Linked DNA regions of Homo sapiens: region 1 is linked to region 2. A link means that fine-mapping ties the variant in region 2 to the expression of a gene that starts in the linked region. Tissue or cell type: whole blood. Region 2 holds a variant in brackets; the other region holds the start of a gene. All regions are shown on one strand. Distances are between the middles of the regions.

Region 1 (8,189 bases), 73 kb before region 2:
CTTAGCAAATATAAAGTGACAATTTAATGTTTACTTGAAAGCAACATACTACGAAAATATAAAACATGCAACATATGTGCTCTAACAGCCTCTTCTAGAGGCTGCATTTCTTTTTCCAGATCTAATTTATATTTCAGTTTGAATTTTGTTTATTGCCATATTTTTAGGGCAGTCTCCTTCTTATCTATATACTATCCTCCCTGTACCTAAAAGGCATCACAAAGAAAGAACTTGTCTCACTGAATTGCAACATTAAAAAAAAAAAACAAAAAACAAAAAACAACAACAAAAAAAAACACACAGACATTAATGTCCCAAAATGCACTTACTTTGAGACAACCACATCTATGAGCTAAATGAATGCCTTGGCTGGCTTTTTAAAGGGGAATTGCAACTTCCTTGGATCTGCACAGCTTTTCTCATCATTTATTTTGTCAAAGAAATAGATTGAATACTAAGAGGAATCATGTGTTTATTTTGCAAGTAAATAAAAGTCTATATTTGCCTGGCAAAAGCATGTTAAACATAGCTTTTTAACAGATGCTGAAGTTCTCTTGGAATATATTTTATTTTTTCAAAACACAGAAAGCTTAACAGAGCAATTAACATAATTCCTGCAAATAGTCCTATAGATGTTACTGACTATACCTCACTTTCCATTTGTAATTTTATTGGGAGTCAAAGCACTGTTACTCCCATGCTCTTTTCTTCCCCTGGTCAACAAAAGGGCTATGTGCTTAATCTGAAACGTTACAGTAGGAACCACTATATAATAATATTAAAGTAAAGACATAGGTAGATAGATACATAGAAAATAAGCCTTCATATTTTAGTTCATTACTCTCCTCCTTCAGCCCTGTTAAGCTTTCAAGACAGTAAAGTCTGATTATCATGACACTCTTACATCCTTTGTAGCCCTATACAGCTCAACAATAAATAATGGTTTATCTCTGTTCAGTCCTTTTTGTTGCTGTTGTTTTTCTAGGAATTAATCATTTTTTTAAAAAAAGACAACAACCATTTTAAGGGGACAAAATCAGGGCTTCTTTTATAGCAGGTGTGAGAAATCTTAGCTAAAGAGCCGTGAGATCCAAATGGAATTCTTCAAGCAGGCAGAATTTGTAAAACGAAAACCATTTAAGAGCACACATCTTGCCTCTTGATGAAATAAGTTGGTCCTCCCCCACCTTCTCACTCACAAGGCCCCAAAGATGGAGCTAGTTTTCCCTTCCTTCCTCCTGCTTTCACACCCGCCTAACCTCCCAATTAAGCAAGTTTAGCAAACCCAGGGAGCTCAATCCAAGTAACACAGGATTTGAAAGAGGAACCTAAAACCAATCATCCCTCTTCCGGCTTTGTCTTCTTATTTGAAATGAATGAAACATCTAGATTCATTTTCCTTTTTTTTTCTGACTCGCTGCAGGAGTAGCTTTGAGAGAGAAAGAGAAAGCATGTGAGTGTGTGTGTGTGTGTGTGCACGCGCGCGCGCTGGTGGGGGCATGGGAAAGAGAGGTATACTTTCAGAATTCTCTCCTGGTGGCTCCCTCTTTCCCTTGGGAAATCTTCGCACAAGTCTCAGATTGTGCATGTTCAACTGCTCATATCTGGAGATACTCCAGCAATGCCTTTAACCAGATCTGATCAGAAATCTCCACCTACTCAGCTAGAGGCTCCTCCATGATCAGGACGCTTGTACTGTCTTCACCACATCTGTCATTTTTTAAAAAGCTTCTTCCACTACACCTCCCACTGATATCCTTTTTTTCTCTTTTTAGTCTTTACACCTCCAGCAGGACAAAGTTTGTATTGTTATATTCACAACCACTAGTAGCTGACTAGCAGGAGAGAGAGAGAGCGGCTTCAGGAGAGCCAGGTTCGGGGGCTTCAAAAGGATACCTAGCGCAAAGCATGACTTTCCAATGACTGCGTACAACATGCACATTGCTCTCTTCTAAAAATGCTTTGTTAAATTTCATCACCCCTGTTCTCAACTCAACCACTACCACTTTGGAGAGGGAAATACAAATTGCCAGCCCAAGCCATTCATCAAACAGCAACAGAATCCACGGGGTGGTGGGGGGGATAGAGAAGAGGCGGGGGTGATGCAGGGGGTGGATTTAAAGAATCAAGGATGCACACGTACTGTATTTTCAAGAGCATCGCCTGGGCGGATTTGGTTTCTTTGGCCGGCTGTCCAGCTATAAGACCGCCCTCTTCTTCATTAAGGAGGAGCCAAAAAGGATATCTTCACATCTCAGAACACAGACCATTTCCCCCAAGAGCCAGCAAAGCTCCAGAGGCAGAGAATGCAGCTGCAAAGTTCCCTTCCAATCTCTTGGGGAAAGATGCCTGTGTGTGCAGAATCCCCAAAGCACACCACGGCACAGTGCCCAGAGACGTGGACCCCGCAGCCCACTCCCTGCTACCCCCTACATTTCTTCCTCGTCTGTCTCTGCCCCGCCACACCTCCCTCCTCTCCGCAGTCCGTGGTGAATGAGCACCCAACGCCCGCTGGAAAACAGGGGGCTCGGAAATGTGGCCTTGGGGAAAGACCCCAGGGATTACCGGAAGGAGGGATGTCCGCGGAGAAGAGTCCAGTGGGTGGGGACGCCTGGATCCCCAGCAGCTCTGCATTCGGGGTGGACTTAGCTCTTCGCGCCCTGAATCCTCAGAGCCCAGCGCGGTGCAGGGTGCAGCATCTCTCCTTAGCAGCCCTTTCTTCCTCCGGCAGCCTGCACTGGCAGGCAGGCAGGCACCCTCACGCCCAGACGCACCAGCCCGAGCAATTTCACTCTGGGAAGCGCGGACACCCAGAAAAATGTGCAGGCGCGCACACACCACATCACACACACACACACACACACACACACACACACACACACACACACACAAATTTAGAAGCCGCTCGTTTGCCAAAGCAGAGGGAAGTGTAGCCTTATGAGCAGCAAATGGAAAATAGTTCTTGGTCTCTGACTAAATGCCTTCTGCCTGTCCATCATAAGATCCTACCTGGTTTGGGGAGTGTGAATGGATTCTTCCTCCGTTCCTCCACGCTAGTAGAAAATACGGCGCACTCCCTCCTTTTAAACAGCTCCCGATCAGGAAGAGGTCGCTCCCATCTTCTGTGGGAAGCACAAAGCAGGCGGCGGCGGCGGGCTGACTACCGTGCAGCGCCGGCGCGAGCGGGAGCCGCGGCAGCGGGCAGCGGTGCGCGCGGGCGGGAGGCAGGCGCGGAGGCCGGGAGGCTGGGAGGGCCGGGGCCCGGGCGCGCGCGCGCTCCCCCTCCCTCCCGCGCACACTCGCCCGCCCGCCGCCCGCAGCCTCGCACTCGCTCACACGCGCGCTCGGCCCCGCGGCTGCCGGGCGCCCCGGGGCCCCCTGCGCGCCCCTTGGGCTCCCCAGGCGATCGCGTCGGGGCAAAGCCGGCGCGTTTCTGGAGCACCGAGCGGGTGGGGAGCCCTTCCAGCCTCCCAGCCTCTGCCGGCGAGCAGCTTTTTCGATTTCCTGCCGGCTCTCGGCCCCGCAGTGCGTTGTGGCCGCGCGCTAGCGCTGTCTCTCGCACCCAGCCCATCGATGACACGCGCACACAGGCGCTGCAACTTTTCTTTTGAACCCTCTTCTTCTCTTCCGCAGACAGAACCCTGACCCCCAATTCGCCTACCCGTTTCTCACCTCTGACTTTGTTAATCCAACTATCTTTCTTCCCTCACTTCCTGCCCTTCTGCTAAAGGAAGCTTTCTTTTAGCAAAAGGATCTGGGCATATATCAATGATTTTTTTTTTAATCCTCACCCTGTGTTTTTCTACGTATCAGATATGCACAACTATACGTTGGCTACTAGATGCTGACACAAGCAAACAGAGATATTCGGGGGAGGGTGTCCCCCGGCCAAGAACTGGGACAGAGTCTCTGTGTTGGTATTTCCCTCAAAGATGCGTTTCACCTGGGAATAAAGACCCAGAGTCTGTTTCGTGTGAAAGGCGTGCTGGTTTTAAACTACAGTGAGGAGTAAAAGCCGAGCATTAAGGTTGAGTGGGAAAAAACCTAATGCAGCAATCGACGAACCATTCTTTGCCCTTTCCAAGAGAAGCATTATCATTGCCAATAAATCACTTTCCTCATAATTAATAAAGGAACACTGCACCAGGCCTTTCCTCTCTTGACAGCTCATTCATTCTTACAAACCCTTAATGACTTCACGTGGTGAAAGGCTAGACCTACTGTGGAGTTCACTAGCTTCCAAACCTGGCTGCGCATCACACACACCTGGGAATGTAGTCAGATGCTGTAGAATCTGAGGCCGAATCTGATGCAGACTCTCCCGTTGTAGGTCTCAAATGGGGCTCCAAATTAGTATTTTTAAAACACCAGTTGCTATCGGCCACTGGTGTCGTTTGCCAAGGTGTGTGGGGGGGTCAGGAGCAGCTACTTGGGGAAGGTGGGAGAAGGAGGGACCTGCAGAGCACAAGGCAGAAAGTTAGTTTTTTTTCGTGGAGACGTCCCCCCATACTTACAGTGCAACCAGGGCAGTCACCACGACTGATAGATTCTGACTCCAGGAACCTCAGTTTGCCTCCGCAACAAAGAGGGGGCGGAATGGAAGAAATAGCCTCTTCTGCCCCTGTGCCAGTGGCTCTCAACCCTCCTTGCACCTCAGAATCTCCTGGGCCGTTTTTAAAAATCCCAGTGCTTAGGCCACACCCCCAAACTGATTAACTTTGACTCTCTGCAGGTGGGCCCCAGACAGCCTTAATTTGTTTTTAAGATGCCTGGTTGATTCCTATGTGCAATGAAGGTTGAGAACCACTGCTCTAGGCCAATACTCCTCAAACATGAATGTGAGTATGAATCACATGGGGATTGCAGATTCTTTTTCAATAGACCTGGAGCAGGCCTGGGGTAGGCAAGTGTTGAAGTGATGCTGAGGCCGTCTGAATGAGGACCTCACTTTAATTAGTCGGGTCTGTTGCCAGCAGTCTTGGATACTGGCTTTGTAGAGGACACTCTAAGCTGCTTCACGTCTTATAAAATTTGCAGGAATCGTTCTTGCCTAAGAACATTTTTCTTTCCTTGCTATAAGTTAAATTTTCTTGGAAGCTACTTTCCACACCAACTTGGTTAGACTACACTTACTAGTGGATATAAACAGAATGACCTGTGGGGAGAGACAGAAGGTCACTGTCTCTTTTAGAATATGTCCTCTACCAAAAATTACTTAGAGTCCCTGAATTTAAGGCAGTGTGAGTAGCAGATATTTGGCTCACACTCAATGAAAGGGGCTTGGAGAGAAAAGTGGCTGCCTTCTAAATAACACTAAGGAAAGCTTATAACTAAAGACTCCACTCAATAGGAAATAGAACACAGCCAAATGAAGGAACCAAGAGAAAGCTAAATGAAAATGTGAGTGGGCCATATTTCACTGGAATAGATTTTGTGGAAAGAGTGTAGCCTCTTATTGCTATGACGGGCCGCTTAGTGAAAGCTGAGATTTTCTTGAAATTTTAGGCATGTTTGTGACATGGAGTGACAAGAACCCTGTTCTTTAAATGTTTATACTCCAGTGATGCCCAAAGTCTGTCTTAAGACTTTTTTTTTTTTTTTTTTTGCTTTGACCATTGAAACTGAAAGGCTACATCTTGGCCACTTGATTCTTCCTCTTTTCCAATCGAAACTGCTTTTAGACTGATTTGGATTCTTGGGAAAAAAACAATATTAAATGGTCTTCTGTTTATCTAGAACTATTGGAGAGGCAGCCTAGTGCCTAGTGATTTGGCATCCTTTTTGGTTCAGTCAGTTTCTGAGCCCCTAATTTTCTTTGCCTTTCATTTCTCTTTAAAGGCATTTTTATAATGGTTCCAGGGCCCCAAGGCAAATCAAACCTTTTGCTCCCTCCTAAATGTCATACATGAGTGAGTTTTTATTGCGAGAATTATCAAAGGCTGCATCACAGGCACAAGGCTGAGGAAGACTATGGCTCTAAGAAAGGAAAAAGTGAGGCTGCTGCAGTCTGTGGCTTTGGAAAGAAGACATGTTGAATGGAGGAAGGTGGTAATTTACATTCTAATAGCAGTAATGTTTCTTAATTGCAGTCTTCCATATTGATTGCCATTCTTTCCTCTGGACTTGGAATTAAGAGTCACCGGGTCTCCACTGTTATCTAACCAAAGCAATACGACACAACCATTCAGGGGACTCCACAGGGATATCACTAAGATTTGATATATTCGAAAGATGTTCTGATGTTCACAAACTATTTCCTAGGAAACCTTCAGGGGATCTGTTAGCAAACTCATTTTCAGACCAAGTGTAAATATTGTGAATTAGGCCCTACTTTTTATCTAGTCTATAGAAAATTTAGACATGTGATCAGGTTACCAAGATTTTTAAAAATATTTAATACTTTACTAAAGCACTCAATATGTTTTCATCATAGGGAAAACAAGCACAATACTCTGTTTAAATTCCTTTCATTTTTACTTTGAATTACATAAATCAGAGGTACCTCTATTGTCTCTTCCATTGCTTCGGGCTTCTGAAATATGTTAATACAGTCTTAGTCGTCCCTCACCTCATTTCTTACTCTGCCAGCCTTCACTAATCACCTATCTGTTCAGTCACAGGCTCAGTTTCATAGTGATTTCTACATAAGAAAATGTTATTACATAATAGCCCCTAGCCTGGCCAGTGAGTGGAGCTTAGAATTAGCCATTTTTCCATACCTAAGAATCTCAGGTGAACCATTGGGTTCCCAGTTTTGTTCTTTAGGTTTTCTTTGCTGATGAGTAGATCCAGGGTTCTTTGCTTTGGGGATGACTTTGAGAATTCTTTGTTGACTTCTAAGTGCTGTTGTTCCTCTTCCCTGGAGACTTGTTCCTGCAGTTAAACTTTTACTTCTCTGTTTTGTTTTGACCAACTGAACACCACTCTTGTACCTCACCCAGTTGTAAACCCTGCTACTGCACAACAGTCCACAGACTGGGGCAGCCTTCCTGGCAGACTCACAGTCACAACTCTCCTCCTCTCTGCATTACCGTGGGGTCAACCACTTCCTCTGAGTCGCCAATGAATTTGTCACAGTCTTTGGACATCAGGGACCTGCAATTCTACATTTGAGCAACTGATATTAAAGAATTGGGTTTGGGCTGGGCGCGGTGGCTCACGCCTGTAATCCCAGCACTTTGGGAGGTTGAGGCGGGTGGATCACGAGGTCAGGAGATCGAGACCATCCTGGCTAACATGGTGAAATCCCGTCTCTACTAAAAATACAAAAAATTAGCCGGGCGTGGTGGCGGGCACCTGTAGTCCCAGCTACTTGGGAGGCTGAGGCAGGAGAATGGCGTGAACCCAGGAGGCGGAGCTTGCAGTGAGCAGAGATCACACCACTGCACTCCAGCCTGGGTGGACAGAGCGAGACTCCGTCTCAAAAAAAAAAAAAAAAAAAAAAAAGAATTGGGTTTGTACAAAATTCTGAGACTTCTGTTTTTCATTTCTGCCCCTTATTAAATTAAGGAAATATCTAGTCTCTGTCCTGCAACTTTATCAATGGTAACTCAATGGCAGAATCATTATCTAGAGCTATTAATTTAGAGGTCAGAAAATAATAGCAGATTGGTTAAGAGCCAAGGCTTTAGAGTCAGAATATCTGTGTTAGATTTTTCAGATCCAGCTGTGTGACCTTGGGGAAGCTTTTTAACCTCTTAAATCTCAATATCTTTGTTTGGAAAACATGGATCATAAACTCTCCCTCAAGGTGCTGTGGGAAGGATAAAATGTATATAGGATGCTTGGCATAGTTCCTGATCATAGTAATTGCTCAGCAAACGATATTGCTGTTATTATTACTGGTAAAGTTTCATAAACATGATGTCAATGTAAATTTTAAAATTTCTATATAATTAGATTCTACATAATCAGGTCATCCAATTATTGATATTGATTATGCTGTTGTTTTTGTTATACAGAGTTCTATGCAATGAATAATCCAGAAAAATATACATTTCTACATCAAGAGAGTACTTTTCCTCTCTGTAATGAAAAAAGCTGCTTGTGAACTTTCTGATTTTGTAAGTACATAGTGTGGTTAGTGATTGATTAAAAGGGGCAATGAATTCTTCTCTCCTTCACAATAATTCTGTTCCCTTATGTCTGGGTATCAATTTGATCTTATCTCTATTATAAACTGAGGGTAG
Region 2 (8,189 bases):
TTACCATTTGTCTACTTTACAAGTGAAGTGAAAGGATGAATCAAACTGGAGGCCACTATTTTCAGCAAAACAATCAATGCAGAAACAAGAATTCAAATGCCGCGTATTCTCACTTATAAGTGAGAGCTTAAAATGTGTACACATGAACATAGAATGGGGAATGATAGACATTGGAGATTTGGGAGGGCGGGAGGGTGGGAAGGGGTGGGAGATGAGAAATTACTTGATGGGTACAATGTGCATTATTCGGGTGATTAATGCACTAAAAGCCCAGGCTTCACTACTATGTGATTTATTCATGTAAGAAAACTGCACATGTACTCCTTAAATTTGTACAAATTAAAAAAAAAAAAAAAAAGGAAAAAGGAAGCAAACAAACAAAAAACAAAACAACTAAAAAAGGCACACGTGGTCAGACCCCAGAGCTGTTTTCGGGATCACCTGGGGAAATAATGCGGCAATTATCACATCAGCCTCCACTTTTACAATGGACAACTAATTTTAAGAATTATCCTATTTCCAGGATATAGTACACATCTCTGCCAGTTTAAGCTTCCATAGACATGCTTTTATCAAGCACCTTCAGCGTCCAGATTATAGGGTTACATTGTCTTCTCAATTTTTGCTGTAATTCTTATTTTTGGAAATTTCCACGTTGTTGTTGGTAGTATTCCATTACATGGGATATGCCATAGTTTGTTTAACCATTCACCTGTTGAAGAACATCTGAGTTGTTTTCACTGTCTAGCTATCACACATAAAACTACTGTGGACATCTGTGTAAGGTTTTTATGTAAACATAAACTTTTCATTTCTCTAGGATAAATGTCCAGGATTATAGCTGCTGGGTCATATGGTGGCAGCATGTTTAATATTTTAAGAAACTTCCTGTCTTCTAGAGTGCCTATATAATTTTACATTCCAAGCAGCAACATATGATTGATCCAGTTTTCCTATAACCTTGTAATCATTTGGTTACAAGCTATTCTGGTTAGTATATCTCTCATTGTGGTTTTAATGTGCATTCCTCCAGTGGCTAATACTTGATCAACTTTTTATGTGCTTATTTGCCATATGCTCTTTGATCAAATGTCAATTTTTTCGCCCATATTTTAATTAGATTTTTCAAACTGTTGATTTTGAGTTTTCAGATATTAGTCCTTTGAAAGGTATATTACTTGTAAATATTTTCTCCTGTCTATAGATTACCTTTTTATTTATTTAAGAGACTTTCACAGAGGATTAGTTTTAAATTTTTATAAAAATTCACCAATTTTATCATTTATGGATTATTTTTGGTGCTTAATTAAGAAAAACCTTTGCCTCGCTCTAAACCCTGAAGATTGTTCGTATTTTTTTCTAAAACTTTTATATTGTTATGTTTTACATTTAAGTTTATGGTCTATTTTGAGTTAATTTTTGCAGAAGTTGTGAGACTTAAGGTGAATTAGCTTCAAAATATTAATTGGAAGCGTTCATCTTCTTCTATTTTATGGCAGACATTGTATAGAATCGGTGTGAATTTTTCTTTAAACATTTTGTTGAATTTTCCAGTGAAACCATCTGTGCCTGGAGATGGTTTGGGGGAGGAATTTTAAAACTACATATTCAACTTTATTAGTAGTTAGAGAGTTATTCAAGTGATCTGTTTTGTATCAGATAAATTGTGGTAATTTGTGTTTTTCAAGGAATTGATTCTCTTTCTTGGTGGTATTTTTAAGTCCTATCTCTTTGCTGATAATATATCCAGTTATTCCATCAGTTTTTGAGACGAGTGTTGAAGTCTCTAACTGTAGTTCTTGATTTGTCTATTTCTTGTTTCAATTCTAAGATACACATTTAGGATTGCAATATTTTCTTGGTTGATTGACCCTTGTCATTCTCTGTCTCTGCTGCTTTGCTTTGCTTTGAAGCCTACTGCATCTGCAATAATTATAGCCACACTTGCTTTTTTTGAGTAATGCTTGCATGATGTGTATTTTCCCCTCATTTCTTTTAACTTTCCTATATTGTTGCATTTGAAGTGAGTTTCTTGTAGACAGGATCATGTCTTTTAATCACCTCTGCCAATCTCTGGCTTTTAATTGATGTATTTAGAACATTTACGCCATTAATGCAAGTATTAATATGCTAGAGTTGAGTTTCTCTTTTTTTGTTGTTTTCCATTTGTTTTCTTTGTTTTTCATTTACTGTTTTTTCTGCTTTCCTTTACATTTATGAAACTTTCTAAAAATTCAATTTTTATTTATCTTTAATGTTTTGAATATATCTCTTTGTATTGTTGTCTTCATGATTATTTTAGGTGTTACTATATATTATGTATAGATAACTTATAACAGTCTACCAGTGTCATCATTTTGTTTGTTTGAGTGAAATTTGGAAGCTCTACCTTTCTTTATATCTTTTTACACTCCCACATTTATATTACAATTATCTTAAGTATTTTTTTCTACATAGATTTAAAATAATACCAGGTAGTTTTATAATTTTTACTTCAATTATAAAACATAATTTAGAAAACAGAAGAGGAGAATAAAATTGTATTGAATTTACTTGTAGTTTTGTTTACCATGTTCTTCCCTCTTTCCTGATATTTGAACATTCCTTTTTTTTAAAAAAAAAAACAAAACTATTTCCTTTCTGTTTAAAGAACATCATTTAGCTGTTCTTTTAGGAGACGTCTACCAGCAAGCATTGCCTCTGTTTTTTTTTGTTTGTTTGTTTGTTTTAGTCTACACATATATTAATTTCCTGTTCATTTCTGAAAGATATTTTCACTAGGTATAGAATCCTGGCTTAAGAGATTATTTTCTATATCACTTTAAAAATTATCTGCCACTTCTTTCTGTCTTCCATAGTTTCTGGTGAGAAATCCACTGTCATTCAAGTTGTTTTTTCCTTAGAAAGAAAAGTATTATTTCTTTCTCACAACTGTTGAGATTTTTTTCTTTTCCTTTAGTTTTCAGAAGTTTCACTATGTAGCTTTTTTTGTGTATGTGTGAGAGATTATCCTGTTTGGGATTCATTCAGCTTCTTGAACTGTAGATTTACATCTTTTGTCAAATTTGGGCAGTTTTCAGCCATTATTTCTTCTATTTCTAATTTCTCAGCATCATCCTTTTTCTCCTCTCCTTCTGAGTCGTCAATGACCCAAAGTCAGATTATAGTTCCACATATCCATAAGGGTATACTGTTTTCCAGCCTGTTTTCTCTTTGTTGTGTAAATTTGGTAATTTTTATATTTTTCTTCTAATTACCTTCTAATTTACTAATTTTCCCTTTGCCTCCTCCATTCTGCTGTTAAGCTCATCCATTAAGCTTCTTACATTATAATATTTTTCAACTCTAAACTTTTCATTTTTCTTCTTTATATCTTTTATATTTTTGCTGAGACTTTGCATGGTTTCATTTGTTTCAAGCATGTTTGTAATTGCTCATTGAAATGTTTTCATAATGGTTGCATTAGATATTTGGTCGATTATCCTAATATATTTGTCTTCTCATAGCTTGCATCTTGGATTGTCTTTTCTTCACTTATTCAGAGATCTTCCTAGTTCTTGATATGATAAGTAATTTTTGACAGAAATATGTACAGTTTGAGCTTTATATTATAACACTGAATCTCACATAAATCTCTGTATTAACTTGATTCCTCTGACACGATGCTGGTGGGGATGGGGAATTGCTGGCTAATTATTACCAAGTGGGAGTTAATGACAAGGTTCTCTACTAGACCTCCATTGACACCAGAGGAATGGGTCTTCATTATCGCTGATTGTAGGTAAGAGAGTTGGCTCTCCACTAGGCCTCCACTGATACTCCCTAGTGGGAGAAGTTATAGTGACTCATTGTACTAAATGCTTCCCCTATGGTATCCATGACACCAAGAGGGAGAAGTAACACCATTACCATTGGACAATGGTGAAAGTTCTGCCTCTCTCTATGCCTCCACAATCACCCTAGTGAGGAGAAGTAGGGATGGCTCATACTACTTGATGGGTGTGGAAATCCAGGCTCTCCAAGTGGTCTCTCTCCATTGACCCTCACTGGGGCATGAGATGGTTGTAGGTGGTGACTATGAAGGTCCCAACTCCTTACTCAGTCTTCTCTGGCAGCACCTTGGCAGATGTTATGGGACCCTCATGACAGACTGGGGACGATGGAAGTCTAAGTGTTCTACTTGGCCTTTGTTGGCATTTGTTGAGGTGCTAGTCAGCTGAAGTAAGAAGTTATTGTCTAAAATTTCTCTGTCTTTCCATTCAACTCCTTTATTTGTCCTTTGGCCAAAGACAGCAGACTTGTGTTTGGGCTTTTTCTTTTTTTTTCTTCTTATCTCTGGCTTTAAGTCTGGGATATATGATATAAAGAGGATGAAAGGGAACTCATTATCATGTCATTTATGGGTTTTAAGACCCCCTTACTAGCCC[G/A]CTTTCTTCTCTCTACTTCTCAGAGTTTTATGTTCATTTTTGTATAGTGTCTTGGGTTTTTAGTTGTACTTAGTGTGAGAAATAGGGAAACGTATGTCTATTCCATCTTTTTGGAAGGAGAAGTTTCAACCAACTATGTCTTCAGAAGTACTTACTCATTTTTCTACCACAAAGTACACGTAAAACTAGTTGTGTTTGCCCTATGGCTGGGGGAATCAAATGCCTCATCCCTTTAGTTAGCATTAGATTTGATAAGTATTCCCAGGAAGAAGACAAATGAGAAAATATAAACAAAACAAACAAACAAACAAAATGGATTGCAACTTTAAAGGATGATATATAAATTTGAGCATAATAGGAGCTATTCAGAAGTTTAAGTTAAAAATTATTGGCCAGGCACGGTGGCTCACACCTGTAATCCCAGAACTTTGGGAGGCCTAGGTGGGTGGAACATGAGGTCAGGAGTTCGAGACCAGCCTGACCAACATGGTGAAACTCTGTCTCTACTAAAAAAATTAAAAAAACCAAAAAAATAAAAAATTAGCTGGGCGTGGTGGTGCACGCCTGTAATCCCAGCTACTCAGGAGGCTGAGGCAGAAGAATTGCTTGAACCTGGGAGGCAGAGGTTGCAGTTAGCCGAGATTGTGCCATCGCACTCCAGCCTGGGCAACAGAGCAAGACTCTGTCTCAAAAAAAAAATATTTACAAGCTTTTTAGCTTTTTAGCATTATGTTGTACTATGTTTCGATTTTCAATCCAGGGATTAAAAAAAATTGAGAAGTCTGGCACTGTGGCATGCACCTGTAGTCCCAGTTACTCAGGAGGCTGAGGTAGGAGGATCACTTGAACCTAGGTACTGGAGACCAGACTTGGCAATATAGTGAGGCCTTGTCTCAAAAAAATAAATAAAAATAAATTAAAAATATGAGAATTCCTGGACATAGCTGTGGATTTTGTGTCAAGTCAGAAAGATTGTGAAAGCATCAATATTATAACCAACCCTATCATACTTAAAATTTAATAGACCTTGGGATTTGGTAATCATTTCCACTGGAATGATTTTAGTCATTACCTTAAAATTTATTATTAACTATTATATTTATTATTTTTATTAATTACCTTAAAATTTTATTAATTACCTCAAACTAATTAGAGTTTCAATAAAATGTTTTAATCCTCACATTTTTGGATGCTAACATTCAAGGCTGAATTCCACAGAAAGTTAAGAATTGTCAGTTTACTTCAATTAACTCCTTAGATAACATTTTTTGTTAAATGTGGCAAAATCTATGTCATTATTTAAAAATACAGTTAATCTACAAATTACAGGTCCACAAGCTTTCTTATGGCTTTCTTCTAAAAATATAGGCCTGTGCTTTCAATTTTAATATCTGACTCGAAGATCAACTAGGTGTCAGGTACAAAACTCAACATCTATTCTAGCTTCTTTTCTATTTCTTTCTCTGCCCTTATTTCATTAATTTTCATGATCACAACTACGATGAATAAGCTTTGAAGTTTTAAATCTTTGTTTCTCTTTACAACACTCTTCCTTCTGTACTCTACATTTCTCACTGTATTTGACCTTTTCTCCAGGAACTACTGCAGTGACCTCAAGTAAAACAAATCCTAATCTAAACTTCCTAACTCTCTCCCAATCAAACCATTTCTCATTGTCTCATTGATTCATTCATTATAAATGGTGGTGCCACTCTTTCAGTCTCTCAAACTGGAAAGTTCAGTGACATTCATTCCTTCTCTACCCACCAAGTATTTAAGTCACCACAAATTCCGTAAGCTCATTACAAATATCTCTTGAATCCAGTAGAATTTTTTTTTCTCACAACACTGTTCCCATGATGTCCATTGTCTCTTTCTTGGAAAGAGTTTCTGCTCTGATTTTTCCAATGTATTCCAAATGAATCCGATATAGGCTTATTTTCCCATTCATCTCAATATATTTTCCTATTCATTCCAAATGAATCCTATATAAGTTCACTTTTCACTTGAGTTACATTTCTAATGTATGAATTCATAATGACATCATCATCAACAATAGTAAATCTCCACATTTATTGTTCGGCTAAAAACATTTCGATCAAGGTTAAATTTCCTCTGCGTTGATATTCCATCCAGTTATGTGTCTTTATAGTAGAATGATTTATAATCCTTTGGGTATATACCAGTAATTGGATTGCTGGAGTCAAATGGCATTTCTGGTTCTAGATCCTTGAGGAACCACCACACCATCTTCCACAACGGCTGAACTAATTTACACTTCCACCAACGGTGTAAAAGTGTTCCAATTTCTCCACATCCTCTCCAGCATCTGTTGTTTCCTGACTTTTTAATGACTGCCATTCTGACTGGTGTGAGATGCTATCTCATCATGGTTTTGACTTATATTTGTGTAATGACCAGTGATGATGAGCTTTTTTTCATATGTTTGTTGGCCACAAAAATGTCTTCTTTTGAGAATTGTCTGTTCATATTCTTTGCCCACTTTTTGATGGGGTTGTTTGTTTTTTTCTTATAAATTTGTTTAAATTCCTTGTAGATTCTGGATATTAGTCCTTTGTCAGATGGATAGATTGCAAACATTTTCTCCCATTCTGTAGGTTGCCTGTTCACTCTGATGATAGCAAAGATTTGGAACCAACCTAAATGCCCAACAATGATAGACTGGACAAAGAAAATGTGGCACATAAACACAATGGAATACTATGCAGCCATAAAAAAGGATTAGTTCATGCCCTTGGCAGGGACATGGATGAAGCTGGAAACCATCGTTCTCAGCAAACTAACACAGGAACAGAAAACCAAACACAACATGTTGTCACTCATAAGTGGGAGTTGAACAATGAGAACACATGGATACAGGGAGTGGAACATCACACACTGGGGCCTGTTGGGGGGTAGGGGGTAAGGGAAGGGATTTCATTAGGAGAAATACCTAATGTAGATGAGGGGTTGATGGGTGCAGCAAATCACCATGGCACATGTATACCTATATAACAAACCTGCAGGTTCTGCATATGTATCTCAGAACTTAAAGTATAATAAAAAAATAAAAGAAAAGCTCTACATGACAGCTTAAGGGGATTAGAATTTACCAGAGCCAATGGGGAGCCAGAAGGTTTTTTCAAACAAGTAAGTGAGAAATTTGAGGTAGGAGGGGGCTTTCTGTTGTTATTGATACTAATTTGTGATTTAGTAAATATTTTGGTTAATTTACTGTTAACCATCATTGTCTCTCTTTTCTCTAACAGAAAAATAGACCGCTAGCCTTGTAAGACGGTAGTTTTCATTGATGTGTGAAAGATTTTTTTCCTAAGTTCAGCTAGGTTTTATTAGTCAAGATAGCTGTCATTTTTTTCCCTTAACAATGTCTCTTTATGTAAATTTATTCTCCATTTTGATTGCTACTATTCTATTTCAGGCCCTTATCACCTCACATCCAAATAGCTGCAGAAAGAGAGAGAAGAAGAAAGGAAGTAAAAAATGAAGGAAGGGAGGAGTAGGACTATGTTCAGACACCCTCCCTAGGTCAATTAAATCAGAATTTTGGAGAAATGGTCAAGGCATTCAAAATTTTTCTTTGTGCCACCAGGGTTGAGAGCCATTGCCTTTTTGGTCCCTTTTAATTAGATTAATTTTACCTCTAAACCTTAACACCAAAACTCAATTAACCTTTTTAAGACATAATTTTCAGTGCATGTTTTACTGCTAAATTTCCTCAGCCAGAGACCGTAGATAATATAC

Evidence for each region. PIP is the estimated chance that this variant, and not a neighbour inherited with it, causes the effect.
Region 1: SLC8A1 starts here. The variant in region 2 is fine-mapped to the expression of SLC8A1 in whole blood (TOPMed, PIP above 0.99).

Annotation. Positions count from the first base shown.
Region 1 is chr2:40,448,895-40,457,083 of GRCh38, forward strand. SLC8A1 (solute carrier family 8 member A1) reads right to left here and starts at 3,196. Exons shown (of 11, transcript NM_021097.5): 1 at 3,010-3,196.
Region 2 is chr2:40,522,305-40,530,493 of GRCh38, forward strand. The region is part of intron 1 of LOC101929667 (a long non-coding RNA gene); the gene reads left to right. Among named protein-coding and RNA genes, the nearest start is that of SLC8A1, 74 kb to the left of the region's middle. The variant G/A (reference allele first, on the strand shown) is at 4,428.